Linked DNA regions of Homo sapiens. The protein of the gene in region 3 purifies or fractionates together with the protein of the main gene of each other region. This does not show direct contact. Each region holds a gene or a part of one and is shown on either strand. Other genes may lie near its edges.

Region 1 (7,176 bases), on a different chromosome or scaffold from region 3:
TCCAGCCTGTGCGACAGAGCGAGACTCGGTCTCAAAAAGAAAAAAAAAAATAGAGAGTAAAAGGAACAAACGTGCAGTCAGGCACTAGGTTTGAAATTCTGGCTCTATTCTACACATATTAGCTATGTCACTTTGGGTAAATCATGTAACTACCACTTCCCTATCTGTAAAATGAGATGGCTGGGTAAAGCCATGAAGGGCTGGGTAAAGTCAAAATAAATAGGAAAAGACAGTCCATTACCAAAAAACAAAATGGATATCTAAGCACAAGTAGGTTACTTTGCTTGGTTTTGTGAGGTTAAAATGTGAATGTATGTGAAAATAACCTAGGAAAGTATCTAGTACATAGTAGTTCTTCAGTAAGTATTAGTTAAATAAACAACCCCTCAATCTTATTAATACTCACTACTTTGCCTTCTACCAAGTATATTTTTAAACTCTGAGATCTGTCCTATCTGAACAGCTAATTAACACATTGAACTTTTTCAAGACTTGCTAATAAATACCTTTTCCTTTTTAATCTGTGACATTAATTGAGGTAACAAGTGAAATGTCAGAGAAAACACTATACGAGTAAATAAATTTTGATTAAGGAATATCACATTTTCTAGCTTTTCTTTCTTTCTTTCTTTCTTTCTTTTTTTTGAGACAGTCTTACTCTGCTGGCCAGGCTGGAGTGCAGTGGTGCAATCTCAGCTCACTGCAACCTCCATCTCTCGGGCTCAAGCAATTCTCCTGCCTCAGCTTCCCAAGTTGTTGGGATTACAGGTGTGTGCTACCACACCCGGCTAAATTTTTTTTTGTCTTTTTAGAAGAGATGGGGTTTCAACATGTTGGCCAGGCTGGTCTCGAACTACTGACCTTATGTAATCCACCCGCCTCGACCTCCCAAAGTGCTGGGATTACAGGTGTGTGCCACCACACCCGGCTACATTTTCTAGCTTTTCTAACCACAAAGATCAAATTAACCATTTACCTTCATCATCTTCATCTCTTTCTTTATCTTCCAATGCTGATCTTTCCAACTGTCTTGCTACTTCATCCACTGAGGCTCCTGATTCTTTATCAGGTTCCTGTTCCCCTGCTGATCAAAATAAAATAGCAGAAATCAAATCTAATACAGACACTTTCCCACTAGAATATGCTCTAATGATCTTGGAAAACTTACAAATCCTTTCCTCAGGAAACAAAAACAGAAACATTATTGTGAACATAACAGAATTCGTTTAATGACAGAAAAATCTTCCATACCTACACAGTATTGTCCATTCATTAATTTACTCAACAAAATATCCATTACACACACTAGCAGCTAAAAGATAAACAGCGTGAACTGGTCTCTATCCTCAAGTAGTTTAACTTGTAATAGTGGTCAGCAATTAGACTTAACAAATACTTAAACACCAGATAGGTAATAAATGCTGAAGGCCTTAGGAAAAAGATTCATGTGCAACACCCCGGGGCAGCCTGGTTTCATGAATAAGGATATCACGATGGGCTGGGTAAAGTCAAAATAAATAGGCAAAGACAGTCCATTACTAAAAAACTAAAACGCTCAAATATCTAAGCACAAGACCAGGCCCCTGCTCTGGAAGTGATTATAACCTACCTATAAGAGCAATATGTTACATGCATTAATAGTATCAGGTAGCACGAAATGAAGTGACATTCTGGCTACTGGAGAGAATTCATATTAAGAAATACAACTGTTAAAAATACATTAGGATCAGTCAGCTTAACACCTTACAAGACAAACAGCAGTGTTTGAATTTCACTCGAAATCCAGGAACAGCCACCAGAGTAACAAATTTTGCTCTGGAAGAGTTCCAGCAACGCTACAACTCTCCTTCCATTCCTATCTAATCAAAATTTCAGAAAGATGAAGATTAGCTCTCTTCGACCTCTCTCAATTCCATCTTAATCGCTTCTGACTTCTCCATTTTCTGTTTCTCTGGCGATTTTAATTAGAAACAAGTAAAAATAATTTTTATTAAGGTGAAGGAGCTTGTGCAGCAAAAACACAGACTTCTCAAAATATGTAAGTTCCTAGTTCATAATATCCAACTGTAAACTCTCAGCAGTTCTCCTTGCCTTACCAGTGGATTTAGAGGTTAAGACCTCAGAAGTTCCATTCTGAGCCACAGAATATCCTATCTGCACTGCCTGCAATTGGTATCATAATTCAGGTCTAAAGGCCCTAAAGCTTGGCGATGCTATGGGATTAGGCAGGTGAAAATTCGTTATCACCACCACAAATTCTGCAATTAATGACATGAGCGCGCGGGCAAACACACATGTACACACACCCCAAAAGTGCAGGCTGCAACAACCCCAACGTGAAACGGGATAGTGGGAGGAGGTGTGCTCTCCATTACATTTGCCCACCCCCAAAGAAAATAAGTCCTAGCTTGCTCCAGCAAACCAGCAAAGACGCGGCAATACGGATCAGAATCGGATTTTTGAGGCGGCGGCCAAATCGCGCGAAAGATGGTAGGGCTGTGCTCTGCGCACAATCTCAAGACCGTGCCACGATGTGCGTGGGAGCTGAGTTCTGGTAATACAGGGGCTCGGGCCCAGCGACCCCAGAGGTACCACACGCCAACCTCAGGCACTCTTTTCTCCCCCACCAGCCCTCTAGTCCCACAGGAGGAGATGACGCCTCTTCTCAGACTAGGAATCTATAGCCCGGCTTTGCCACCCTGTCAGGCCCAAGAATCAGTCTAGTCGGGGCTCTGGGGCCCCGGTCCCGGCCCCCTCAACGGGCCTGAGCCAAACAGTTCAGCCGTTCCCGGAGGGGACTGGGAAAACATAAAACTCTCTTTACCTGCAGAAGGCCCTTTGCTCTTCTTCTTCTTTCGTCTTTTTTTCTTGGCTGCTTCCTCAGCCGTAGAGGCAGCTCCTTCTTCCCTGTCGTCTGGATCCAGGTCGCCATTCAGGTGGCTCCCGGAGGCCGCTACCTCCTCCACACCCGCCATGTTGCCCGAGAGAGCGCGAGGGAATGAGACAGAGCGGCGAGGGCCCCGATCCTTCTCCACCCGCCTACACCAGCCACGCCGGAAGCTGCTCTCGATGGTAGGGACGCAGGGAATGCTGGGACGGCGGAGGACTCAGCTGAGGGTGTCGGGCTAGCTTCGGGCCGGGCGTGCAGGAGTCTCGGCTTGGAGCCCCGCCTGGCTGGAGTCGACTGGGGCCAGACCCGACTGCTTCGTCCGGTGCCTCGGGCATTCCCGAAGCAAATCGGCAAGCGCAGGGTGAAGTTTAAAGGGGAAGTTGAGCTCTAGAGTCAGCCGGAGATACCTGTGGAGACGGGCAACCCGCCGTAGCAAGCGGCGTCTCTGCTGGAACGGAAATATTTTATATTTGCGTTTTTATAAATCACACAGGCAGTGGGGAAACGGGCTAAGAAATGTGTTCACTTGTACACATTTCTATTGTCATGACTCCACATATCTCTTAAATCTAAGAGATTTAATCAAATCTGCGTTGACATTCACAATCACAGCTCTCCGCGAGGCTCTGTAGGCACTGGAGAGAATTTTGGAAGCTGGAGTTCCGTGTTAGTTTATTGTACTACTCAACCCCGGACGGTTCAAGATGGGAACCCGTCACACTCCGCTCACTTTCCAATTCAGGACAAGAATGACAGGTTTTAACACACGGGGACACGGTCTCTCTCATTAATGCAAAAGATCACACTCCGTTTTCTCTATTTCTGGTCACCTTTCTTTTGGATTTAGGACGTTTCACCAGAAACTAATTGAATTTTGCCCATTTCTTTACTTCTTATGTTTTGAGCCTCATGTTCAAACCGCAGTTTGAGATTTAGTTTGTGGCGTAAGTGGATTGTGATTGGCTGCCTGCACCAACTCCTTCTCAATTTCTCCTGAATATGGCTTTGTCCACCTGGAGAGTTTAGGTGTTTTCATTAGTTTTAAACTAGGCACCAAGCTTCATGGGCATCAAAATGTCGTTAAGAGCCTTATTGCCAGTGAGTTTACAGTAAACCTCACACAGGCTCTGACTGCAGCTGCATAAATGTACATTCTCTGTCTTAAAGCTTCAGGCAGCACCTATCCAATAGTAATAAAAACTGTTCCTCTTATTCTTGTACAGATCTTTATCTCTTTAAATCTATCCCTATTTAGATTTTAAATTGTTTTCCCTAGTTGATTGCTGGCAATATAAAAGTTGGTAAACCGGCCGGGCGCTGTGGCTCACGCCTGTAATCCCAGCACTTTGGGAGGGCGAGGTGGGCAGATCACAAGGTCAGGAGTTCGAGACCAGCCTGGCCAATATGGTGAAACCCCGTCTCCACTAAAAATACAAAAATTAGCCGGGCGTGGTGGCAGGCGCCTGTAGTCCCAGCTACTAGGGAGGCTGAGGCAGGACAATCGCTTGAACCCCGGGGGAGGTTGCAGTGAGCTGAGATTGCGCCACTGCACTCCAGCCTGGGCGACAGAGCGAGACTCCATCCCCCCCAAAAAAGTAAATAAAATAAAAAATAAAAAGTTGGTAAACCAAACATAATACCACAAAAATAAAAATAGAAGTAGCTTCCATGTGTCCAAAATCCTTTAAAATGCCCGGCAAGACCCAGCCATATCTACTTCTCCAATGTCTCCACTCTCTTACTATTATAGCTCCAGCTCTCAAAGCTCTTTCTGACCTTGGAGCATTTCAAACTCACTGTTACTTTTATCTGGGCTGCTCTTTGCTTGGCTGACATATTCACTTATTCACTCATCCATCCATTCGTTCAATGCCTACTATAAACCTAGATCTGGCAATATTTAGAGAGCAAAAACAGAGATGATCCTTGTCATCATAGAGCCAGTTAACAAAAATAGACATCAAGCAATGATGCTAATAAAAGCAAATTTACAACTGCTGCTATGAGAGCATATTACAAAGGGACTTGCCTAGGTAGGATGGCCTGGTAGAGTTTCCTGAGGAAGTAGCAATTAGGCTGAGATCTGAAGGATAAATAGGCAAAGGGGAGGGGAAAGGTTTAGAGAGAGTATTTTTTTTTTTTTGAGACGGAGTCTCGTTCTATCACCCAGGTTGGAGTGCAGTGGCCTGATCTTAGCTCACTGCAACCTCCGCCTCCCAGGTTCAAGCGATTCTCCTACCTCAGCCTCCCAAGTAGCTGGGATTACAGGCGCCCACCACCACACCCAGCTAATTTTTGTAGAGACGGGGTTTTACCATGTTGGCCAGGCTGGTCTCAAACTCCTGACCTCAGGTGATCCACCTGCCTCAACCTCCCAAAGTGTTGGGATTACAGGCATGAGCCATTGCGCCTGGCAGAGTATTCTTGGCAAAGGGAAGGTAAAGAAAAATTTAAGAGGTATTTAAGAGGAGACATGGATTCTAATACTAGAATGGTCATTTGGCTATAATTTTGTGACTCTGGACAGCCCATATATTTTTGAGCCTTGATTTTCTCATCTGTAAAACAGTAGGGAGTATAACACATTTAAAGAACTAAAAAACATCCAGAATGGCTGGAATGCAAAGAGGTGGAGAAGGGAGTGAGTGTGATGAGATGAGACTAGAAAGGTAAGAGCCTTGCAGGAAGGAAAGGGTAGGAGAGCTGACAGAGCCTTTTAGATCATACTAAGGGCTTTATACTTTGTCCTAAGAACAATATAAAACTCTTAAGTATTTTATTTTACTTTTTTTATTTATTTTTCAGACAGGGTCTCATTCTGTTGCTCAGGCTGGAATGCAGTGGCGTGATGTCAGCTCACTGCAACCTCTACCTCCTGGGTTCAAGCAATTATCCCACCTCAGTCTCCCAAGTAGCTGGGACTACAGGCACATGCCACCACACCCAGCTAATTTTTGTATATTTTGGTAGAGACAGGGTTTCACCATGTTGGTCAGGCTGGTCTCAAACTCCTGACTTCAGGTGATCCACCTACCTCCCTTAAGTATTTTATTTTTATTTTTTATTTTTTTCTGAGATGGAGTCTTGCTCTGTCGCCCAGGCTGGAGTGCAGTGGTATGATCTCGGCTCACTGCAACCTCCGCCTCCCGGATTCAAGCAATTCTTCCACCTCAGCCTCCCGAGTAGCTGGGACTACAGGTACGCGCCACCACACCCAGTTAATTTTTGTATTTTTAGTAGAGACGGGGTTTCACCATGTTGGCCAGGCTGGTCTCAAACTCCTGGCCTCAGGTGATCCGCCCTCCTCAGCCTCCCAAAGTGCTGGGATTATAGGCATGAGCCACTGTGTCCAGCCCCCTTAAGTATTTTAATGGTGAGGAGACAGTTAACCTGATGAGAGTTGCAATTAACATGATTAGATTTTTGAAAAGATCACCATGGCTGCAGTGTACAGAGTAGAGTTGAGGGTGGCCAGAATGAAAGCAGGGAGATCAGTTTAGAGGCTATTACAGTCAATAGGTTATAGTGGCTTGAAAGGGAATGATGATGGGTATGACCAAAAAAATGAATAGATTTAAGAGATATGTGGGAGATAAAATGGGCAAGACTTGGTGATGAATTGTATAAGGGATTTGAGAGAGAAGAAGATATCAAGGAATCCCCTTCGGTGTGTGCTGGTGAAACTGGATTGACTGGTAATGTAATGTAAATAACAGAGATAGAAAAACATTTCAGATTTGAAAGGGAAGATTATGAGTTAGATGTGAGACATGCTGAGTCTGAGGTGTCTTGGGGCATTAAAGTGGAGCTGTGAAGAAGGTGGATAACTATAAGGAACTGGAGATCAAAAGAATAGTTGGAGCAGATATAAAAATTTGAGTCATCAACTAATAGATGGGAATTGGAACTTTGACACAGATAAGATCATCCAGCAAGTGGATCTAGACATGAGAGTCTACCTGTACTGCACAGCATGGTGGCCACCTACCACGTTGCCACTGAGCACTTAAAATGCTGCTAGTTCAGGCCGGGCGCGGTGGCTCACGCCTGTAATCCCAGCACTTTGGGAGGCCGAGGCAGGCGGATCATGAGGTCAGGAGATCGAGACCATCCCGGCTAACAAGGTGAAACCCTGTCTCTACTAAAAATACAAAAAATTAGCCAGGCGTGGTGGTGTGCACCTGTAGTCCCAGCTACTCGGGAGGCTGAGGCAGGAGAATGGCGTGAACCCAGGAGATGGAGCTTGCAGTGAGCGGAAATGGTGCCACTGCACTCCAGCCTGGGCG
Region 2 (7,258 bases), on a different chromosome or scaffold from region 3:
AGTCTGGCCGGAGGCAGACAGGATGGTGACGCTACCCAAAGGGTCCAGCCCAACGAGGGAAACGTCCGGAATGACCCCTGCGGTCAAAGGCCTTCAGCCAGTGTCTGATCCCGATCAAAAACATCCCCTTCTACTTCTTCCTGGAAGCATCTGCTTCTTCTCCTGGCTCAGAAACACTTGCAGGCAGAGGCAGATACAAGTTTCATGGGGCCAGAGCTTAAACAATTCTGGGAAGCCCTCTTTACGTATACAAAACTAGACTACAAAACAAGTATTGCTTTAGACCGAGAAAGTACAGAGCTACACGTTAAAGTTAAAAAAGAACAATATCAGAAATATCACAAAATCCAGAAAACCAACACAATGTTTTCCTAACTGCCATGTGCGTCTCCTGAAATACGTCTTCCGGACAGTTCTGGTCCTGTACTCATCGCTTCTTCACACACAGGACAATGATTCTGCAACATTATTTTCCATATCAAGAACAGAAAGATAATGTCTCCCCTTTGCCATGACTCACTGATTTTTTATTACCGACAGTTTAAGGAAGTTTCTTTTAGCCTCAAAAAATCATAACTGAAGAAGTCGATCTTTAGAATTGTCAAATTTGGGAAAATATAAAGTTTTTTCATTTCTGAACTGAAACATTTGAGGGCATTTCAAGTTTTTCTTCTCATCACATATACCCCTTTGATAGATGACACACATTAAGCAGTCTGTGGCAACGCTATCTTTGCTTTTATATTTTAGGTAATGCTATCTTTGTCAGTGTCACTATTTCCTGACAAATCAGCAGGAAATATATAGCTTTTATCATTGTTTGATTCACTAATTGAATTATCGAGCAATCTAAAAACCTGTTTATTGTTTTTACTTGAAATTTTTTCTTCCTTTTAACGAAGTGCTGCTTTTGGCATGATCTGAAAATATTTTGTTACCATTTTTCCTGTTGATGTCAGAACAATTTTTATTGCTGTTATTCAACTTTAACACTTTTGTTTCATAGTCCATTAATACTTTTTTGAGATAGTCTCGCTCTGTCGCCCAAGGTGGAGTGCAATGGCGCCATCTCGGCTCACTGCAACCTTGACCTCCTGGGTTCAAGCGATTCTCGTGCCTCAGCCTCCCGAGTAGCTGGGATAACAGGCGCGTGCCACCATGCCTGGATAAATTTTATATTTTTAGTAGAGACGGGGTTTTGCCATGTTGGCCAAGCTAGCTATTCAGATTCTTTAATGAAAAGTCTAGGTTGGCATGTTTTTAATAGATGGCTTGGATAAAACCACATCCCTGTCTGCTCCTCTTCAGGGAGGACAGTACTCAGGAGGCCACGATGCCCATGATGGCACAGGGAAGGCCCTGTCAGAGGGCACAGCAGGACACACCAAACCTAGCAGTGGGGAGAGATTGGGAGAGGGTTCAAAGAAGGGTTCCCTTGGGGGGACCCTGGGAGCTCGGTCCCAGGGGACACGGAGAGTGAGGTGGAAAGGAGAAGAGCCCGCAGGAAGGAGGTGTACAGAGACCGGGCTGCACCTGCACCCGCCCGTTCAATGAGACGACCCACATAAGCCTGCCGAGCACAGCACAAGTGTTTCAAGTACACCAGCGAATATGACACACTGGCGCGCTGATGACACCCTGGCGCGCTGGCGGAAGAAAAGGTGCCGGTCCCTCGCTTTCTTCATCGGGCTTGCAGTAGCTTCGAGGTTAGCCACAGGGGCTGCCGACTGAACAGCTGGATCTAGGAGGCGGGTCCAGAACAGGAGCCCGAGATCCTTGAAGCCCACTGGGAGGGAACCCGAAGCTGAAGGGAACACTGAGTGTTTCTGGGAACAGAACAGTCTCTTCCACATGAAGAAACGTGGCCCAGGAGAAGCCTCCGTCTGCATCTGGCTATTAGCTGCTCACACTGAAAATCAGGATGATTCACAGAAAATGCTCTTGATAAACTGGACGACCTGGCAACACTGGGACCGCAATCCTGTAGGGCAACAGTCGGTGCCCCGAAGAGCACAGGCACTGAGCCCGAGCCAGCCGGGCTCCTGCAGTGCTGGGCGCAGGCCCTGGAGCATGAGGGGCCCCGGACACCACCTGCGGAGGGAGTGGCCTGTGGGCCTCCCCTGGATCCCACAGGCCGCACGACTCCAAGGGTGCCTGTCCAGCTTCATCCTGTGTGATGGTGGCACCCGGGCCCACAAAGGGCCACCTTGGCGAGCTTGCAGGAACACCCTGTGCCGCTACCCACAGCCTTGGGTGCGCAGCTCTGAGAGCAGCCAGGAGCAGGAAAGGTGGGGGAGGAGAAGCTGGGGGAATGGGGGTGCGGCCAGCTCCAGGGACCTCTGATCTTGCTAAAAGGGCGATACTTTGGTGAGATGGGCACGAAGAAGAGGGCAAAAGAAAACGTGCGCTGGCGTCACCTGGCCCCTTAGAGGCACCTGGGGAAACTGAGGTGGAGGATGAGGACAGGGCGGTCTCGCCAACTTTCGGCGGTGAGATCCCGGGAAGCTGCACGGCCCCCGGGGCTCGCGGGCGCCGAATCCGGGCAGAAGCCGCCGCCGGTCTCCACTTGGCCGCCCCAAGCCGACCTGAGGAGAGCCCGCCGAGGGCGCATTCGCCTCCCGCCAGCCCCTCGCCTCCCCGCCCCGGCCCCTCCGCGCCCGGCTCCCGGGTCCTGGCCTCGCGCCCCCGCCCCGCCGCGCGCTGGCGTGCGTGTCCGCCGCGACGCGCCGAGGCCGGGCCGGAACCGGACCCGCCCGCCGCCCGCCGCCAGCCCCGCCGCCAGCCCAGCCGCGGCGCCCACAGGCCCGGCCGCCCGCGCGCCTCTCACCCGTAAGGCCGCCGCCCCTGCCGTGGCCCCGGCGTCGCTGCAGCACGAAGAAGGGGTTGGCCCGCTCCGTCACCCACAGCGCATTGGCCACCAGCACCTCCTCCGGGCTCAGCCACATCGCGGAGCCGCTCGCACCGGGCCGAGGCCCGCGAGACGGAAGCGCCCGCCGCCGTCGGCGTCCCGGAGCGGAGCGTGCGGAGCGGAGCGTGCGGAGCGGGCCGGGGCGGGGCGGGGCCGGGCGGGCGGCGCCCCCTGGCGGGCGTGTGGCGCTCCCGCACGCGGCCCGAGTTCCGCGCCGCCCCCTCAGCCCCGGCCTCGGGCGCGCGCCAGCCTGGCCTCCTGGAGCGGTGCAGCCCACGGCCTCCGGCCTGGGTCCAGAACGGAACGGCCCAGTCCGCAGACAGGGGAGCCGCTGTGCAGAGCAGGGCTTCTGGCGTTTTGAAAGCTGTGCAGTGTGAGAGAAGGATGTCAAGAAGCAGAGTTTGGCGGCTTTTGGCTGGTTGCGCGTGCAACCCGGGGCGTGTTAGCACTGCAAAGGGCGCCTGGAAAGGGTTTGCAGTTCCTCCTAATTCTCAGCTTTCTTTTCTTTTTTTTTTTTCGACAGAGTCTTGCTGTGTCGCCCAGGCTGGAGTGCAGTGGCGCAATCTCAGCTCACTGCAACCTCTGCCTCCCGGGTTCAAGTGATTCTCCTGCCCCAGCCTCTTTAGCTGGGATTACAGGCTCCCGCCAACACGCCCGGCTAATTTTTTTGTATTTTTAGTAGAGACGGGGTTTCACCATGTTGGCCAGGCTGGTCTCGAACTCCTGACCTCGGGTGATCCGCCTACATTGGCCTCCCAAGTCCTGGGATTACAGGAGTGAACCATCGCGCCCGGCCAGTTCTCAGAATTCTGACACTGGGGCCGGGAGACTAGAAGAATCTTCCAGCGCAGGGCAGGTGCCAGGAGGCCCTGATACGGGCTGCATCCTTGGAAATCAGTGCTGCCCCTCCCCTGACAGACGGGTCACAGAGGCTGGCCGGCCCTGGGGATGGGGTCTGGACTGGCCCTGGGCCCAGTGGCGGCTTCTGCGCAAGTGTGAGGCTGGCTGCAGGCGAATGCGGGTCCCTGGTCTCCCAGTGTTGGCCTGCAGGGGCAGCGCCAGTCCACACACAGCCTTCTGCATGAGGGGGCTGTCAACTCCACCTGGGACAACGGGCCTGGGGCCTGTCCGGGGTCGACTGGGATGTGGGGTCACCCTGCTGGCTGGAACCCTCACCAGGGTCTGGCTAGAGGGCAAAGGGAAGGGGGCAGTTAAACCATCCTTGGAGCTGGACCTGACTTCCAGGTGGGTTTCTGTGATTGGCACTCAAGAATCTTGGTGCGATGGATGTAGGTACATGCAGTTGACACCCAGAGTGATCTGCAGTCTTCTTCAATGTTGCTGGATATAGGAATCAGCTTTCAAGATGCAGAGGCGGGCTTTCTTCAACACCTTGGAAGTCTGAACTAATATTGTCATTGTGCTCTCTAGAGGGAAAGAATTTGGAAGAACTGCACTTTTTAACACCCTGAGAGGAGGTAAAGAGTCGTCTTGTTCCTTAATCCCAGTGGTTCTCAAATTGGGTATACATTAGGATCACCTGGAAGGCTGATTCAAACAGGCTGCTGTAGTCCCAGCCACTTGGGAGGCTGAGGTGGTAGGATCACTTGAGGCCAGGAGTTCAAAATCGGCCAGGGCAATATAGCAAGACTCCATCTGAAAACAAAACAAAACAAAAAACAGCCACACAGGTTGCTGCCCCCTCCCTCCCAGGGTGTTTGCACTGCTAACTCGTTCCTAGGTGATGTTGATGCTGCTGACCTGGAGACCACTCCTCGAGAATGGTTTTTTATAAGAAGAAAAAGAACAAACATTTATCGATCACTTAGTATGTGCGTGCTAAGCTTACTTCTTTTTGATTTTCTGAGATATAAGTCACATTCCGTAACGTTCACTCTTTTAAAGTGCAAAACGTAGTGGTTTTTAGTATATTCACTAGGCTGGGCATCCATCATCACTAATTCCAGAACATTTTTATCAAGTCAAAAGAAACCCCTTACCCATTAGCTGCCATTCCCCACTTCCCCCCGGCTTTGCCCTGGCAACCATCAATCTATTTTGTCTCTATACATTTTTCCCATTCTAGCCATTTCTTCATATAAATGGAACCTTACAATATGTGGTCTTTTGTGTCTGTCTTCTTTCACTTCCCATCATGTGTTCGAGGTTCACCCACGTTGTAGCACGTATTGATGCTTCATTCCTCCTTATGGCTGAATAGTACCCCACGGTATGGATGCACCGCATTTTATTCATTTGGATGGACATTTGGATTGTTTACCCCTCGTCTATTATAAATAATGCTGCCATGAACATGTGTACAAGTCTTTGTGTGAATATGTGTTTTTAATTCTCTTGGGCATATATTGAGGAGTGGTATTGTTGGGTCATGTGGTACAGCTATGTTTAACTTTTTAAGCAGTGACCACACTGCGCTCCAAAGCAGCTGTAGCATTCCACATGCCCACCAGCTGGGTGTAAGAGTTCTAGGCAGGGCGCGGCGGCTCACGCCTGTAACCCCAGCACTTTGGGAGGCCGAGGTGGGCAGATCACAAGGTTAGGAGATCAAGACCATCCTGGCTAACACGGTGAAACCCCGTCTCTACTAAAAATACAAAAATTAGCCGGACGTGGTGGCATATGCTTGTCCCAGCTACTCGGGAGGCTGAGGCAGGAGAATTGCTTGAACCCGGGAGGTGGAGGTTGCAGTGAGCCGAGATCACGCCACTGCAACTTCAGCCTGGGCAGCAGAGTGAGACTCCGTCTCAAAAAAAAAAAAAAAAAAAAGAGTTCTAGTTTTTCCATATCTTGTCAACACTTGTTATTGTCTTTCTTTTTTTTTGATGCTCATTTCTAGAGGGTGGGAAATGGTATCTCGCTGTGGTTTGGATTTCCATTTCCCTGATGACTGATGATGGGCTTTTGGGTTATTTGTATATTTTATCTGGAGAAATGTCTATTTGGAGAAATGTCCTTTGCCCATTTAAAAAATTTTTTTATTTTTTTATTTTTGAGACGGAGTCTCACTCTGTCGCCCAGGCTGGAGTGCAGTGGCATGATCCTGGCTCACTGCAGCCTCTGCCTCCCAAGTTCAAGCGATTCTCCTGCCTCAGCCTCCCAAGTAGCTGGGAGTACAGGTGCGTGCCACCATGCCTGGCTAATTTTAGTATTTTTAGTAGAGAGGAGGTTTCACCATGTTAGCCAGGATGGTCTCGAAATCCTGACCTCAAGTGATCTGCCCGCCTCGGCCTCCCAAAGTGCTGGGATTACAGGCGTGAGCCACTGCACCCGGCCTCTGGCTCCAGTGCTTTTCCACACGTGTCAGACACGTGCTGCCTTTGCCCCCAGCATTCACTTCTCCCGTCTGTGCAGTGTCGTTTGTTTTTCTGCAGTGGGAACCGTGCCTTAGAACGCTCAGCTCTTGTCTGTCAGGTGAAGACACATGGACTCCTGGGCTGTGAAGGTGGAGCCCATGCCAGCTGAGGCCATCGGTGCATTCTATCTGTGATCACAGGGGCTGGCTGGTGATGGCCATGTGCCTCCAACCAAGTCAGTTGGGCCAGGGAAATACCGTCCTGACCTGGGCCACCTCCTGGGGACTGGCTCTTGTGTTGATGGAGCTACTGCCACCCTGAGCCTGGGGATGGGGTTCCCAATGAGGAGCAAAGTTGGCATGTGTCTTGGTGTCAGCATTTGAGGGTGAAATCACACCAAGCCTGACATAGGCACCCCTGGGCATTTTGGCTTTTGGGAGCCATGACATTCCCCTTTTGTGTTAGCCAGTTTTGGCTGGGTTTTCTGTCATTTGTAACCAAGAGAGTCCTCAGTGATACACGTCACCACCAACAATACTCCATGTGGTCAAATCAGCTTTTTCAATAGGTTTTTATTGAAATGGTTATATTAGCAAATTCTGCACATACGGGTGTACACTGTTGGCATATAGGTATATACCATACAATTTCACTACTTGATTATACTTACACCAACCATGCAGACCAAGGAGCTGTGCTGCCCAGAACATTTCAAAGGGTTGATGAGATCTGATTGTCAAGAACCAGCTCACACTCTACTTGTAGGTGTTTGTGTTCCAGACAAGAAAACTCCCCCGACAGGGAGGCCCGAAACTGAGCTAATCGTCAGTTTTGCTTCTTGAATATTGACTGTTCTTTCTGGCACAAGCTATCCAATGAATTAAATTAAAATTTTAATTAAAATTCAAGTGCATAGTTTCCTTTTCATCCCTCAAGGTGGAAGATAAATCATTTGCCACATTTAGGTATATCCCAAGCCTCCCCACCCCCACATTACCTGTGCTATAGTTAGAAAAATAGTTTTGTACGCCATCTT
Region 3 (7,592 bases):
AACTTGTTTTCTGGGAGCCCTGGGGGGTGACATGAGCCAAGTGAAGGAACGGCAGCCTAGATTTAGGTCTCTGTGAGCCCTTCTTTTCTCAAGCACATTACAAGCATAACTGATGCTTACAACCTGAGACGTGTAACTACCACAGGAGCTTTCATCTTGTGAATGGCAGGTCCTCTGGAAGCCACATAAAGCCAGCCAGGCTAGCCAATGAGGCAGCTCTGCCTTGAAATGCCTCCTCAAGGATCCAAAAGCAGCCAGCAGAGCCCCACTGAATTAAACATTTCCTGGCTCTCCTCTTTCCCCAATGCTTCCCTATCAGATGATCTCACCCAGTGCCCCCACCTGTGGCTCTGTTATCCAGCTGTATCTTACAGCATGTGTCCTAAGGAAGGTACTCAGATCCCTCTCAATATGAAGGCTCTTATACTTACACAATGTGACACAGATCCTCCTCAGAGGACACTACTGCTTAGGCATGCAGGTCGGACTCTAATCTCTCTCATTCACTCTCTATGTTCCCCGTCCCTGACCCAGGGGACAGAAACGACAGAAAGGAAATGATTTTGTTGCTGCTTTGAAAGCAACACTAGTGGGCTTTTATTGAATCAGAGAATAAAACCTTGTCCTATAGGTCACTGAAGTACGTTGCTAGATGGACTAAGCTTGTTAATCTTTTTGTTGTCCCTTGCATAACCTAATCAGTGTTTCCCAACCTTTTCAAAATCCCTGCCTCCCTTCCGCAGGCCAAACAAACAATGCATACCCTTTGCGGTTTATGGAACAAAGATTAATTTCTCTCCTCTGAAAATAAAAGTGTATACTATGCCACCTACCTCACCCTCAGCATTCTTTTCTCCCCTCTACTCCATGCCACTTAAAAAAAAAAATTTTCTGGCCGGCATGGTGGCTCATGCCTGTAATCCCAGCACTTTGGGAGGCTGAGGCAGGTGGATCACGAGGTCAGGAGTTCAAGACCAGCCTGGCCAATCTGGTGAAACCCCGTCTTTACTAAAAAATACAAAAATTAGCCGGGCATGGTGCCTCACACCTGTAATCCCAGCTACTCGGGAGGCTGAGGCAGGAGAATCGTTTGAATCCAGGAGACGGAGGTTACAGTGAGCCGAGATCGCACCACTGCACTCCAGCCTGGGTGACAGACGGAGACTCCGTCTCAAAAAAAAAAAAAAACAAACAAACAAACAAAAAAAACTGTGATAAAGTTTTTAAATTATTCCCACTAATTTGGTTTGTGTGAAGTCTATCAGGTGACAACCTATATTTCACTTTACTAGGGTCATTTGTGATATTCTAAATGAGCTTTGCAGCAACTTGTTCTTTTACTTTCATTCATCTCAGAAAACCGACAAAATTTGATTTCCGGTGGCTGATAAACCTGAATTTGATACCCCTAACAAATTTAGGTGTTCCCTCTTAAAAAAATATATTTATCTTGCCTAGTAAACTGAATTCTTGGCAAGTGTAGGCATTTCACAGGCATGGGGTGTGTTTTAGAGGTTTGAAATCAGGTCATTTCCTAAAGAAACATGTTGTTGTACAGGGAATGTAAGAGCTATAAAGGGCTTTGAAGGTATCAGGATGTCTCCAAGGGACAAGGTAGAGAGACCCTTATCCATCTCATACCAGAAAGAGTTCTGAATAAATTACGTGGAAAGTCCAGAACACAGTAATATCTTCATAATGAGTTAGTTGAACCATTTCTTACAGAGTAGATTACCAGGTGTATCCAACAAATCAAGAAGTTAACCCGTGGAAAATTGAAGGGACTTTTTATGTTTGCCTATGAGCTGTCTGGGGAAATGGAGGAGAGGCAGGGAATACTTTCCATAGCTTGACCTGCTCTTAAGTTCCTGGACATACCTTCCCCTTTTTAAAGTATGATTTAAAGGCAACAATCCATCTCCCCCGGACTCCCATACAAACCTCTTTTGGCAGCCAAATGGTCTTCATCGAGCACACACTTTTCAAAGAATTAAGGACGTGTGAGTAGGTTTAGTTTAGACCCTGCCTTCCCTCTCCCCACAACCCAGTAACATGCTGAAAATAAGTAATAACCTTCCTGGGTACCCCCAGAAAAACCTGTTTGCAGAAACTACAACCTTTCCTCCGAAAAAAACCCCTATCTTCTTAAGGAAGAATCTCAGTGTGGTGGTCTGCAGTTCACTGCAGGCATTTCCCTCCTCACCATTTACCAGTCATCAGTTACGCTGCATCTGAAATTGGTTTTTGTAGACTTTCATTTAGACCGGCTCCACCGGTGCCCAACTGCTTAAAAAAAAAAATAGCCCCTGAACCAATCTCTGGATTCCTCCAGCAGGCTCAAAGCGTTCAATTTCGCTGCAACTCTGGGGTGAAAACCGCCAGGTCCAGCCGGCAGAGCAACCTCCCGGGCAGCACGGAGGCTCCGTCCCCGGCGAGGCCGCCGGCACCTAGGCAGGAGGGCTCTTCGCACAGCTGCGCTAGGAATTCGGCTCCGCTCGCGGCCGCAGGATTAGTTCGAGTCCCTCGGGCTGGCCAAAGTGACACTACATTTCTTCTTCTTCGTTTCCCCATGTGACAGGTCCCCCTGCATTAAAGCCACCTCCTCCTCGGCCCCAGCCCAGGTCCAGCGCTCCTGACGCCCGCGCCCCATCACCCGCACCCTCCACCTGGGGAGGGGGTTCATGCCAGCAACCCTCCAGGCGGGAAACAAAGGCGGAGGCAGGGCTGCCAGGTGGGCAACTCCCCTCGGGCAGACCCGTCACGCAGTGGGGAGGATGGGAAGGTGCCTGAGAGGATAGGAAAAGGGAAACCAAGGCAACCGGGGCTGCATCCTCCCTGAAGCTGGGCTCCCGGGGCAAGCTGACCCCACACCTCCCCGAGCCCCGCCCAGCCCAGCCTAACCCGCTTGCCGGGACCCAGCATGGGAAGGACTGGGGGGACGCCCCGGAGCGCCGCTTACCTCGGGAGAAGCGCTCCGGCTCCCTCCGACGGCTCAGGAGAAAGCCCCACCGCTCGCGCACGCGCTCTCGCGCACTCGCGCCTTCGCCCCTCGGGCCCCCGCGCGCGCCCCTCCGACCAGGCTCTGGCCCGCCCCGGCCTTGTCCGTCAGCGTCCGCGACAGCCAATCCGGTCGCACGGAAGGCTCAGCGCCGGTCACGTGGTGAGACCAGCCAATCACCAAATTGCCCTCGGCAGCGCCCGCTCCGATGTCTCTGGGGGTTCGGTTGCTACCTAGCAGAGCGGGTGCGAGGCGGGCACAAAGGGTCTCTGTTTTCGGGGGCTAAGTGGCACTCAGTTGATCAATTACCAGATCAATTGACTTCTCAAATTCTAATATAAATAAGAATCACTTGACTCTCTTGTTAAAATGCGGATTCTGATCCAGAAGGTCTGGGGTGGAGACCTGAGATCCTGCATTTCTAATAAGCTCCCAGGTGGCGATGACGAAGCTCTTGGTCGGAGGATCACGCTTTGAATTGCACCTGTCCGAAAGTAATGGCTGTAGCCCCAGCTCCACGTAATTTGAAACTTGCACGACCTTTCTTGTCCTTCTTCCACTGATGAGAAGCGTTCCTGTGGCTACATGGGGTGTCCCGGTGATGCTTACAGTTTGGGCACCAGCTGAGGGAAGGTGTGTTTAATCCCCACATTACCCACCCTTGGTCTATGGAGCAGCAATCATGCCAACTTGGTGACTGGAGTGTGGAACCAGAAGTGGAGACGGAATGGCCATGGAAGAGAACACTGTGTCTACGTTAATCCTAAAGGGTTGGGCGTGTGTGTCTGAGTGGCGCGGTGCCAGACACTTGGCCAGAGAAGTGGTATAAGTGGTCCCTGCTTCTCAAAACGTAACAATTTGTTGTAGAACTATACAGGCTAGTTCAGAAAGAAGCATGTGGAGAAAACATCCGGGAAGCTAACAGTCACAGCACAAATTCAGGCATAAGCTAAAGAGGTTGTAAAATAATATGCCTTGAGGGTCTTAAAAACTGTCCAAATATTCTTCTGTCAGTAATTCCAGAGTCTAGAAGTTAGGACTCCCACTGGCCCTGTCATTTCTCAAATTTGACCTAAGGACTCAGTGTTTTCGGACTGGCCAGCTAGAACCTTTGTCGTTCAGCGTAGCCAAGCTCTTATTACCCAGTAGTGTACCGCCGTGGTTCAAGATTCTTAAGTGCTGAATTCTCCAAAACCTTCATCTCTCATCTCTTGAAACCAGGTGGTATAACCCTGCTTCAGCATTTCTCTCTCACTATCAAGGTGATCAAACTGTCGCTTAGAGAAAACTTCACCTTTGTCAGTGTGTCCTGAACTTCTCTGGCTTCTCATCCCCAGAAGTGAAGCCCACCTAGCAATCTCAGACATTGTTCATCACATTGTCCCTATCAGAGATGGCATCGCACAAAATTCAGAGTTTCTGGGAACATGTTAAACCTGTCACAGCAATGGTTCTGGCTACAGCAGGAGTAAAGAAATGTCTAAGCAAGAAAAATGTTTTGAAAGCCTCAAAAAAAGTTTGTTTGCTGTCATTAAACCAGTGGTTCTCAAGCCTAGCTGGATGGTAAGTATTTATGGAAGTAGGTTGTGGGGCCCTGTGCCTGGAGATTCTGATTGGGATGAGAAGTGGGGCTTGGGCAGCTATAGGTTTAAAAAGTTCTACTGGCAATTTGATATCCATCCATGCTTGAGAACACCTGCATAAGCTGCTAGATCGATAGACGCATTTTTTAACAGGGAAAACTAAACTCTGCAACACAAATCACTAATGACATACACACTCTGAAAACAGAAGAAAGTTTCCACATAATTTTTGAGAACTGATTTTTAAAGGCCAAAAATAATTCATAGGTAATAAATACTCCAAAGACTAGTCAATGGAATAAATTGAAAAGCTAGGTTCACAACTAGGTTTAATTTCAATTGATTAACTAAATATTTCTAAAAGAACGTATTGCCTTTTGTTAACCATGCCAAACTGATAAACTCTCTGGTAATAGCTTTACTTGTTTTATGCCCTTCTTAACTAAAACAGATTTCCATTTGAGCATTTATTTTTTATTTTTTAAGTTCCGGGGTACATGTGCAGGATGTGCAGGTTTGTTACAAAGGTAAACGTGTGCCATAGTGGTTTGCTGCACCTAGCAACCCATCACCTAGGTGAGTCTATTTCAAAGATTCCAAGGGTTCCCAATTCTCTTTACTGGCGTTTTACCAAATTCTGTTACTTTTTAAAAGTGATTAGTGCCTGCACCTTGGAAAACTATTGTACAACTTTTTTATGGTGTGATATTCAATGTAGTGGAATATGACCTACTTAGATTTTAACTAAATTAGTGAGATCCCTCAGAACATTCTACCAACACCAGCCATCCTACTCAAAAGTGACTTTATTTGTGACACCAGAAATATGGAAGCCCAATGTGTGAGCCTGCAAACTAGCTTCCCTCCTTCTGTGACACTTTTAAAAATATATTTCACAGCATTCAAATGGGGGAGAAATTTTTCTCACCTTGTAAACTTGCTTTATCTATTGAGTAAAACAAGGACAGTTTTCACTGCTACTTAACTGAGTAATGTAAATTTTTAACTAGGAAAAAAGCATTTATTTTTCTCTTTGTGGGTGTCATTATTACAGAAAGAAGCAACAAGAAACAAAGACTCTTGCTTGAGGATGTGAATTTGAAAAAAAAAATCCAGGCTGTCGTTCATCCTCTGTTTTTCAGTCTACTTGCCTCATACATATAACCTGGTTTTCCTGTCTTGGGAAATGGATATATTAGTAACTTGATATGAGTTAGCTCAAACCAGGTTTCCTACCCCTTAGTCCAGAAATTGCCCAGCAAGAGATTTAGGTATATTTGAAAAGAAAGAAAAAGATAAGATATAAGCCATCCACCATTTTGCCAAGTCCCAGAAATCCACCCATTGTTGTATTATTATTAGAACCCCCATAGACTGCTTTATAATTGCTAATTACCTTTTTATCTCTCTGACAATAAATAGCTTCTCTAAACTTAATTGATTTCATTCATGAAGACCGATAGATTACCCAAGGTTCTAGTCTCCATCTGTCATACAAATCCTGGCAGGATAACATTTTGTGTCTATGTATCTGTGTTTTAATAACTGATACTTTTATCCCTTTACTGTGACTGTGTACAGATTTAACCCAACCACAAGGCATTTTTGTAGAAAACTTGGTTTTCTTTATATTCTCTATAACGAATGTTAAGAATATTAATATTCGCTTTTATATTTTCACAAAACAATTTAGACTTAAAATATGTGTAGATAATATATACCTCTCTGTACCTCCCCCAACTTAAGAAATCAAGCATTATACATACAGTTGAAGACCTCATGTGCCCCTCCCAACAAGCTGATTTTTTTTAAATGGAGATTTCAAAATTTGCAAGCTTATTCACCAAGGAGAGATAATGGTTTATGGAAGGAACACCTATCTCATGCATGTAATAGGCAATACAAGTGTAAATGGGCAAAAGTCTTACTGAATAAAATGTTTGGACATTCCAAACTGATATAAGAAAAAGCTAAGAAAGCTGGAAATCACCTGTGGTTCAAAACCTGTGTCTTAACAATTACAAACTGGACGTGGGAAGCAGGTAAGCTTCAGAAAACAACAGTTTGGAGCAGAGATGAGGTAAGGATTCAGGTTTCATTCTTTCAATCAACACACTACATGAGCCTTGTCTTTTAGCTCATTTTAAGAGAGGTAAGCTACCACAATTCAAAATAAAAACTTTTATGTTACAAGCGAGGCGCATAACACTGTAAGATCGCGTAGAGATGGAGTACCAATTCTGACTGATGAAATCAGGGAAAGCTTTCTGCAAGAAATTATACGTGAACTGAATTCCGGAGTTGTAGGAGTTAACCAGGTGTTGTGGACTGTTTCTCCCCAAAATTCATATGTTGAAACCTCCCATCCCCAGTGGATGATGTTGGGAGGTGGGGCCTTTGGGAGGTAATTAGGATTAGATGAGGTTGTAACGGTAGAGCCCTCATGAATAGGATTAATGCCCTTTTTAAAGTCTCCAGAGACTTGCTTCTGCTCTCTGCCATGTGAGGATACAATAAGAAGTCAGCAGACTGTCATCCAGAAGAAGTCCCTCACCAGCACTTGTCCATGCTGGTACCCTGATCTCCAGCCTCTTGACCTGTGAAAATAAATTTCTGTTGTTTATAAACCATCCAGCTTATGGCACTTTGCTATAGCAGCCCGAATGGACTAAGATGCCAGCAAAGGGCAAAAGAAAGGGTGTTCTGGGCCTAGGGAACAGCCCACATGAAAGCATAAGAGCATAGAGCATTGGGAAAGAGAAAGTAGTGTTATTTAACTGGGTTTAACAGGAGAAGGGGAAAAAATGATGATTGAAAGGTGGGGCAAAGACCAGAATTGAAAAATTGCAAATGCATGATATGCCATTCCTCCCTCCTCCTGTACATATGGCAGATAATCAATCATAGTATTCAACTCTGTTATAGTGATTATGAGTAAAATCTAGGGCTACATGGTATGGGTTGAAATCCCAGCTCCTCCAGCTGTGTAAACCCAGACAATTTGGCCCCTG
Region 4 (7,380 bases), on a different chromosome or scaffold from region 3:
AAGGGACAGAACTATATTTGGACCAAATCCAAATCACTGAGTGATTCTACTAAATGATGATCGCATACTACATTTTGTTTTTGTTTTTTCACATACATTTTAAAGTGAGAGATATTATTTTAAATTTTAGAGGGTGAGCATCAAATAACATTGTGGTTTCTGTAATCAGTATAAATTATGCAACAATCAGTTTAAATGGGATCATTTACAACTGCTCACATAGCTCTTGAGTTTATATTAACAATGTAGAATTTAACGCAGGATAGTCTATTCCTCAAAGAAACAGGAATAATGAACACAATTAAATGTTTCACTTTGACCCAGACTATTTTTCAGAACATAAAGTCATCAACATTCATATTACAGCAATGCTTTTTCTTTTCTGCCCAATTAGCACCAATATAAATCGTTTATTCCATCTAAGGCCCTGTATTACTTCAGGGAATATAAATCTAAGTCCCGGCCAGGTGCAGTGGCTTACGCCTGTAATCCCAGCACCGTGGGAGGCTGAGGCTGAAGGATCACAAGGTCAGGCGTTTGAGACCATCCTGACCAACGTGGTGAAACCCCATCTCTACTGGGAATACAAAAATTAGTCGGGTGTGGTGTCACACGCCTGTAGTCACAGCTGCTCGGGAGGCTGAGGCAGGAGAATCACTTGAATCCGGGAGGCGGAGGTTGCAGGGATCCGAGATCGCCTCACTGCACTCCAGCCTGGGCAAGAGACCGAGACTCCCTCTCAAAAAAAAAAAAAAAAAAAAAAAAAAAAGTAAGTCCCATAGTTCTGAAAAACTTACACTCAGAATTTTCACATTGACCTAAGGCAGAAACCTCCAGCCCACACGTTCTGAATTCCTAAAAGATCACTACAATTTTTGTGAATGCTCCAATATTAAACACACTGGAATTTCAGTCCCTCTTGCGATCCTCATTGAGAGAGTTTAAGATCTTTTATCATCAATTAACACTTAGGGAGCAACTACTGTAACCTACTGATCAAATGCCAGAAAAGTAATATTTAAAGCAGGATTCTGACCCACCCTGCAGATTTTCCTATAAAGGCTAATTATTCCTGGAGGAAAGATCACCCCAGTTCTTCAGGATTCCAATTACAATCACATGAAGCCCACCCACCTTCTTAGGAAATTGATAACACCACTTTGCATCGTTTTGTACTCAACTGCTGGTGTTATAAACATGATCTTGACCAGGATTTCTCAGCCTCAACACTGCTGACATTTTGGGCCAGAGAATTCTCCAGCGTGGGGGGCTGTCCTGTGCAACGTAGGATGTTTAGAGGCGTCCCTGGCCTCTACCCACTAGGTACCGGCAGCACCTCCCTGCCCCCATTGTGACAATCAAAACTATGTCCAGAGATAGCCAAATGTCTCCTGGGGAAATAAATTGCCCCCTGCTTTAAGAACCACTCATCTGGACAAACTCAAAGTACCAAAAGGTAGACACCCTGCTAATCAGACGACCGGAAAGACTTTATTCCCAGCCAGGAAAACACGTAACATTCACCCCAGAGATGGCACAAGAAAACCATATTATCTTTTTCTTGTCTTCCACCCAATTTATGCTAAGCAACCCAGGAGTAGGCTATACCACTGTGAGCACATGAAGACATCTGGCCCAACCTTTACAATTATTGCCTTCAACTCTCCAGTGACAAGTGAACAAAATCTACAGCAGCTGCTGCCTTGAAAAAAGACAAAATATATTATTCCTACCAGCTCAAAATTAAAATGTAGCCGTCTTAAAACACGAGCATTGCTCCTGAATGCCACATGCATGAAAAACCGGGTATGCACTGGATTGGACAAGCAGACTCCCAAGCTGGAACAGACAGAAGGGCTTTGAGGGAGGGCAGAATGTCAGGTACCGAAAGCAGGAATCCGTGAAGAAACCCAAACTGGTTTCCATTTACAAGCCCTAACACTGGGACAATGAGAATCCGTTTCACATGGTAGAGCAGTCAGCCTGGTACACCACGCTGCCGTTCCCCCAAGGGGAAACCAGAGGTAGGCTCTGTTACCAGTGGATTTCGAGTTGACTCGGGGATCCCTCCTCGCCACTGGAATGGGGGAGCCAGGAAGTTGTGGAGCAGCTGCGATCCCCAAAACTCAATTCGCAATCTACGCAACACCCACCCCTTTCTGGAACTCAGAGGTTCTCGCCCGGTGATCGCAGGCTCAGCATCAGAATCACCTGCGTGGGGCGGAGTGGGAGCGGGGCGGTGGCGGTTAAACACGCAGTTCCCGGTCCCGCCCCCAGAGGTTCTGACCCCGGGACTGAACCTCCGCATTTTACCAAAGGCCCCAGGTGATTCCCACTCAGGCTGAAGTTGGAAAACCACTGCTTTGGCAATTTTCATTCCTAACTCGGAGACCAAGAAAAACCTACAGGTTTGCAGCTGGCTCTGAAATAACTGCGGCTTCTTTCCGGGAGCATCTGGGGCCGCCAACGGAGAGCTCCCGGTCCTCCGAAAGGGCCAGCCGAGCTCAGGCCGGCCACTCGCGGAACCTCGGCAGGGCCCAAGGTCGGCCCCGCGGTCCCAGTCCTGGGCTCCGGGCCCGTCGCGGCCCCCACCGAACCCCGCCCAGCCTCTTCGGCCCACGGGGACCCAAGAGACACCCGGCCCCGTGACGCGCCCGGGCCCCAGCCGCCCTCCCGGCGAGGCCTCCTCAGGCAGGGCCTGTCAGCCCGCGTCCCCCTGTCCGGGTCACAATGGCAGCTCGCGACTGGGAAACAGTTGCCTCGGAAGCGGGAGCCCCGGGCCGCAGCACCGTCCCCATCGCCCCCTCCCGGCACGGACCTTCTCCAGGGACGCGTCCATGGCTGAGGCGGCCGGTGGTGGCCTGGCGGTCCCGGGCTCTACTTCCTCCTCCCGCGCCCCGCAGCTCCTTCCACGCTGGCAGCGCTGACGTCCCCCGCGCCCGCGGCCGGCGGGGCGGAGAAGAGGAGGAGCTGCCAGGCGGCGCCGCGGGCTGCCGAACCTGATGGTTGAGAGGCGGCGGGGCGGGGCCCCGTAGCGCTGGGCGGAGCCCTCTGGGATTCCGTACCTGGGCGCCACGCCGGCCCTCCCTAACGTGCGCAGGTGAAGGGGGGAGGATGCCCGGTGGATTGTTCACCAAACTCTTTCCAGCAGCCTGTTGCAATCATCAAGGTAGAAGTATAATAATCACAAAGTACTATTCATGGAGTGAAAGGCTGGAAATACTAGTGACGCACCTCACTTCCGGGCCCAGGCTTCCAAGTCTCCCGCCTCACCTCCCGCCGGCATCCCTCGAGAATGGAACAGGCCATTCGCCAAGGAGGCGGTGAGCGAGTGGGCAACCTTGCGCATGCGCAGGACTCGCAGCGTCCTCGGCGCCCGGGGACTTGGGGGTTTTGGGGTTGGGGGCTGCTTAGTGAACGCTGTTCAGAGAAGGCACTGATCTAAGCTGAGGTGTTGTCTCAGACCTTACCGCCGAATTCTAGACGGAAAAAATTGTTGTAACAACCGGTCCAGCCTCTTTCATGTCACAATTATCACTTGTCAGGTAATGGGTAGTAGTAATAATGATAATATTAATACATCAGCTGCTGTTCTTCCATTTTCCTATTTCAGCAGCTCTAGGAGATCATTATCCCCATTTCGCAGTGCCGATCTAGGTAGGATTCAGACCCAAGCCCCATGAGTCCACATACTGCTTCCACTCCTACTTTACTTTAAATGTTTTAAAAAGTTAATTTTTTATTAATTTTTTTATCTTGTTAACCGATGAACTGAAGAGAAAAAAAATTAAAATCTCATTTTAATAGAGAAGGTAGGGGTGTCTCACTATGTTACCCAAGCTGGCTTCAAACTCCTGGCCTCAGGCGATCTTCCCGTCTCAGCTTCCCCAAGTGCTGGGATTACAGGCATGAGCTACCACGCCCGGCCACTTTTGCAATTTTACTGCAATGTGTTTCGAACGAATGGGGAGGGCGTACATTTGCTTAGTAGATTCCTCCCACCTTAATGTGGGAAACTGATATAGACTACCACAGTGGCAATCAATGGAACACTTCACCTCTGCGATGACGCTACAACCACAATCTTACTCCTTTTCTCTCCTGTTTTATACTCTTCGTCCCGAAATCTGTGTAAACAGGGTCACATTTTCAGCGCAGTAACTCCATGTTTTGAGCTATCTACGTTGTATTTGGTAAATTGCCTGGTTATGTTAATAAAATTATTTTCTACCAAAAAACCCTTGTGTGCTGGTTTAGACTGTACTGTGGGGATTATTCTGACTCTCTAAAGAGCTTTCCAAACAGAAGGAAAGATAGATTTATGTCTTTCAAGAATTGAAGATTGAATGTACCCCTGCTTGAGCAAAACAAGTCACTTTTCCAACGTGTTATGAAATTTTTCAAACGTAGAAAAGTTTAAACAGTTGTACAGTGAACAACCATATACCCACTACCTAGATTCTACAGTTAATTTTCCCTATATTTGCTTTAATCACATATGCATCCATATATCCATCCATCGATATATGTTAGTACATTTCACCTCTGAGCACCTCAGCATGGGTATCATTCAAAACTAGTAAATTTTACTAAAGTCACCTCCAAGTTTCTGTGGATTACATTACAAAGTATAATAGATTCTACAAAACAAATACTAGAGAGAAAAGTTAACTTTACTGTTTTAAAAGTAGACTTTGAAAACCCAACATGAAAAAGTGGAAATAATCAACCGTATTATTTATTATATTTAGCCAAACATTTATTGACTGCCATCTTGGACAGTTGTGCTGGAAATAGTATGTAAAAGAATAAGAGGCTGGTTCAAGAGCAGCCTGGCCAACAGAGTGAAACTCCGTCTCTACTAAAAATACAAAAAATTAGCTGGGCGTGGTGGCAAACACCTGTAATCCCAGCTACCTGGGAGGCTGAGGCAGGGGAATCACTTGAACCCCGGGGGCAGAGGTTGCAGTGAGCCGAGATTGTGCCACTGCGCTCCAGCCTGGGCAATAAGACGAGACTCCATCTCAAAAAACAATAAAAATACAAATAAGAGGCTGGGCCGGGCGCGGTGGCTCACGCCTGTAATCCCAGCACTTTGGGAGGCCGAGGCGGGCGGATCACGAGGTCAGGAGATCGAGACCATCCTGGCTAACACGGTGAAACCCCGTGTCTACCAAAAATACAAAAAGAAATTAGCCGGGCATGGTGGCGGGCGCCTGTAGTCCCAGCTATTCTGGAGGCTGAGGCAGGAGAATGGCGTGAACCCGGGAGGCGGAGCTTGCAGTGAGCAGAGATCGCACCACTGCACTCCAGCCTGGGCGACAAAGCGAGACTCTGTCTCAAAAACAAAATATAATAAAAAATTTAAAAATTTAAAAAAGGCTGGGCGCGGTGGCTCATGCCTGTAATCCCAGCACTTTGAGAGGCCGAGGTGGGCGGATCACCTGAGGTCAGGAGTTGGAGAACAGCGTGGCCAACATGGTGAAACCCTCGTCTGTACTAAAAATAGAAAAATTAGTGGGTGTGGTGGTGTGCGCCTGTAATCCCAGCTACTCGGGAGGCTGAGGCAGCAGAATCGCTTCAACCTGGGAGGCGGAGGTTGCAGTGAGCCAAGATTGCACCACTGCATTCCAGCCTGGACGACAAGAGCAAGACTCCGTCTACACACACACACACACACACACACACACACACACACACACACACACACAAAACAAAGACAAGCTCTCTGCCCTGAAGAAAAACACTATTTTGGGTAGAAGTTTTTACTTTGGGATGCAGATGGAGGTCTCTGAAACTATACTCAACATTTTGTGTGTGAGTGAGTGCATTTTTCTGGGGAAAACATCCATTGTCTTCATTATATACTCAAGTCTGTGATTCCCCCATCCCCGAAAAAAAAAAAAAAAAGTTGAAACCATTTGGCTTGTGGATGCACAGATAGGAAAACTGATACATTATAATGCAACATTCTATGGACTAGTGAAGAGAGATAAGCAGAATATTGTACAGTTTGGAGCATGAAGCCATCAGTTGTGGGGAGGTTTAATCTCTACTGACATATGGCTTTATGTGCTGCTAACAGACCTGTCTTTTTCTTTCTTTTTCTTTTTCCAGACGAGTCTCACTCTGTTGTCCAGGCTGAAGTGTAACGGCGCAGTCTTGGCTCACTGCAACCTCTGCCTCCCCGGTTCAAGTGATTCTGCTGCCTCAGCCTCCCGGAGTAGCTTCGACTGGAGGCGTGCGCCATCGCACACACTGTATTTTTAGTAGAGACAGGGTCTTACCATGTTGGCCAGGCTGGTCTCAAACTCCCAACCTCAAGTGATCCTCCTGCCTCGGCCTCCCAAAGTGTTTGGATTACAGGCCTGAGCCACCGAGCCTGGCCTCAAACACTTCTCTTTTTTCCTTTTTTTTGAGATGGAGTCTCGTTCTGTCGCCAGGCTGGAGTGCAGTGGCACCATCTCTGCTCACTGCAAGCTCCGCCTCCCGGGTTCAAGCAATTCTCCTGCCTCAGCCTCCTGAGTAGCTGGGATTACAGGTGCGTGCCACCAAGCCTGGCTAATTTTTGTATTTTTAGTAGAGACGGGGTTTCACTAGTTGGACAGGCTAGTCTCCAACTCCTGATCTCAGGTGGTCCACCCACCTCGGCCTCCCAAAGTGCTGGGATTACAGGCGTGAGACACCAGGCCCAGCCTCAACTGTAGACTTTTAACTCAAAGGTACAAAAATTGGATTATGTCTGGGCCAGTTTTTTCCCTTGTCGATGGTATAGCCCATTGGTTAGAGTTCAGACTGTGGCTACAAGTAGAACTGGATTCTTTTTTTTTTTTTTTTTTAAGCTGTATAAGTGAAAACTACTTGGGCAAGTTACTTAACCTCTTGGTATATTAGTTTCCTCATCTGTAAAATTCTGGTTATGCTTGCCTTTTAGTGTTTGTTAAACATTCTTATGCTCAAAAAACAAGCAAATAAAAACTCCTTATCTTCATCCACATCCCCTTCTGGTTACACCTAATGGTCTCAATTTTCTCATCACACAAGCACCACCAACTCATCTGAATCTAGCTTCGGCCTTGTTCCCTCCACCCAAACCAGTGTCACTAAAACCATCTCAGTCCATCACACCTGACCTCTCAGCAGCCCTAGAACCAGATGATCACTTTCTTCTTGAAACTGACTTTCCATGCTTCCCACAATATCAAATTCTCCGGATCGTCACCTTCCCTTTCTGCCTGTTCCTTCTCAATGTCTTTTGGAGTTTCCTCCTCCTCCACCCAATGTTTCATTGTTGGATTTCCTCAGCACTCAGCTGGCAAGCCTTTTTTTTTTTTTTTTTTTTTTTGAGACAGAGTCTCGCTGACTCACTGCAACCTCCAC

Evidence for each region.
Region 1: the proteins of TMEM108 (region 3) and METAP2 purify together in Homo sapiens (affinity purification with mass spectrometry; 2 studies listed by BioGRID and IntAct, with this or other methods). This does not show direct contact.
Region 2: the proteins of TMEM108 (region 3) and TBC1D9B purify together in Homo sapiens (affinity purification with mass spectrometry; 2 studies listed by BioGRID and IntAct, with this or other methods). This does not show direct contact.
Region 4: the proteins of TMEM108 (region 3) and PDXDC1 purify together in Homo sapiens (affinity purification with mass spectrometry; 2 studies listed by BioGRID and IntAct, with this or other methods). This does not show direct contact.

What each region holds. Positions count from the first base shown.
Region 1 is NC_000012.12:95,469,979-95,477,154, reverse strand, and holds the start of METAP2 (methionine aminopeptidase 2), read right to left. Parts: upstream 3,004-7,176; 5' UTR 2,976-3,003; coding exon 2,825-2,975; intron 1,085-2,824; coding exon 977-1,084; intron 1-976. UniProt on the Homo sapiens protein: Cotranslationally removes the N-terminal methionine from nascent proteins. The N-terminal methionine is often cleaved when the second residue in the primary sequence is small and uncharged (Met-Ala-, Cys, Gly, Pro, Ser, Thr, or Val).
Region 2 is NC_000005.10:179,904,877-179,912,134, forward strand, and holds the start of TBC1D9B (TBC1 domain family member 9B), read right to left. Parts: upstream 3,022-7,258; 5' UTR 2,946-3,021; coding exon 2,828-2,945; intron 1-2,827. UniProt on the Homo sapiens protein: May act as a GTPase-activating protein for Rab family protein(s).
Region 3 is NC_000003.12:133,033,803-133,041,394, reverse strand, and holds the start of TMEM108 (transmembrane protein 108 isoform 1 precursor), read right to left. Parts: upstream 3,005-7,592; 5' UTR 2,960-3,004; intron 1-2,959. UniProt on the Homo sapiens protein: Transmembrane protein required for proper cognitive functions. Involved in the development of dentate gyrus (DG) neuron circuitry, is necessary for AMPA receptors surface expression and proper excitatory postsynaptic currents of DG granule neurons.
Region 4 is NC_000016.10:14,970,659-14,978,038, reverse strand, and holds the start of PDXDC1 (pyridoxal-dependent decarboxylase domain-containing protein 1), read right to left. Parts: upstream 3,014-7,380; 5' UTR 2,840-3,013; coding exon 2,819-2,839; exon of another isoform or gene 2,455-2,818; coding exon of another isoform or gene 2,407-2,454; intron 1-2,406.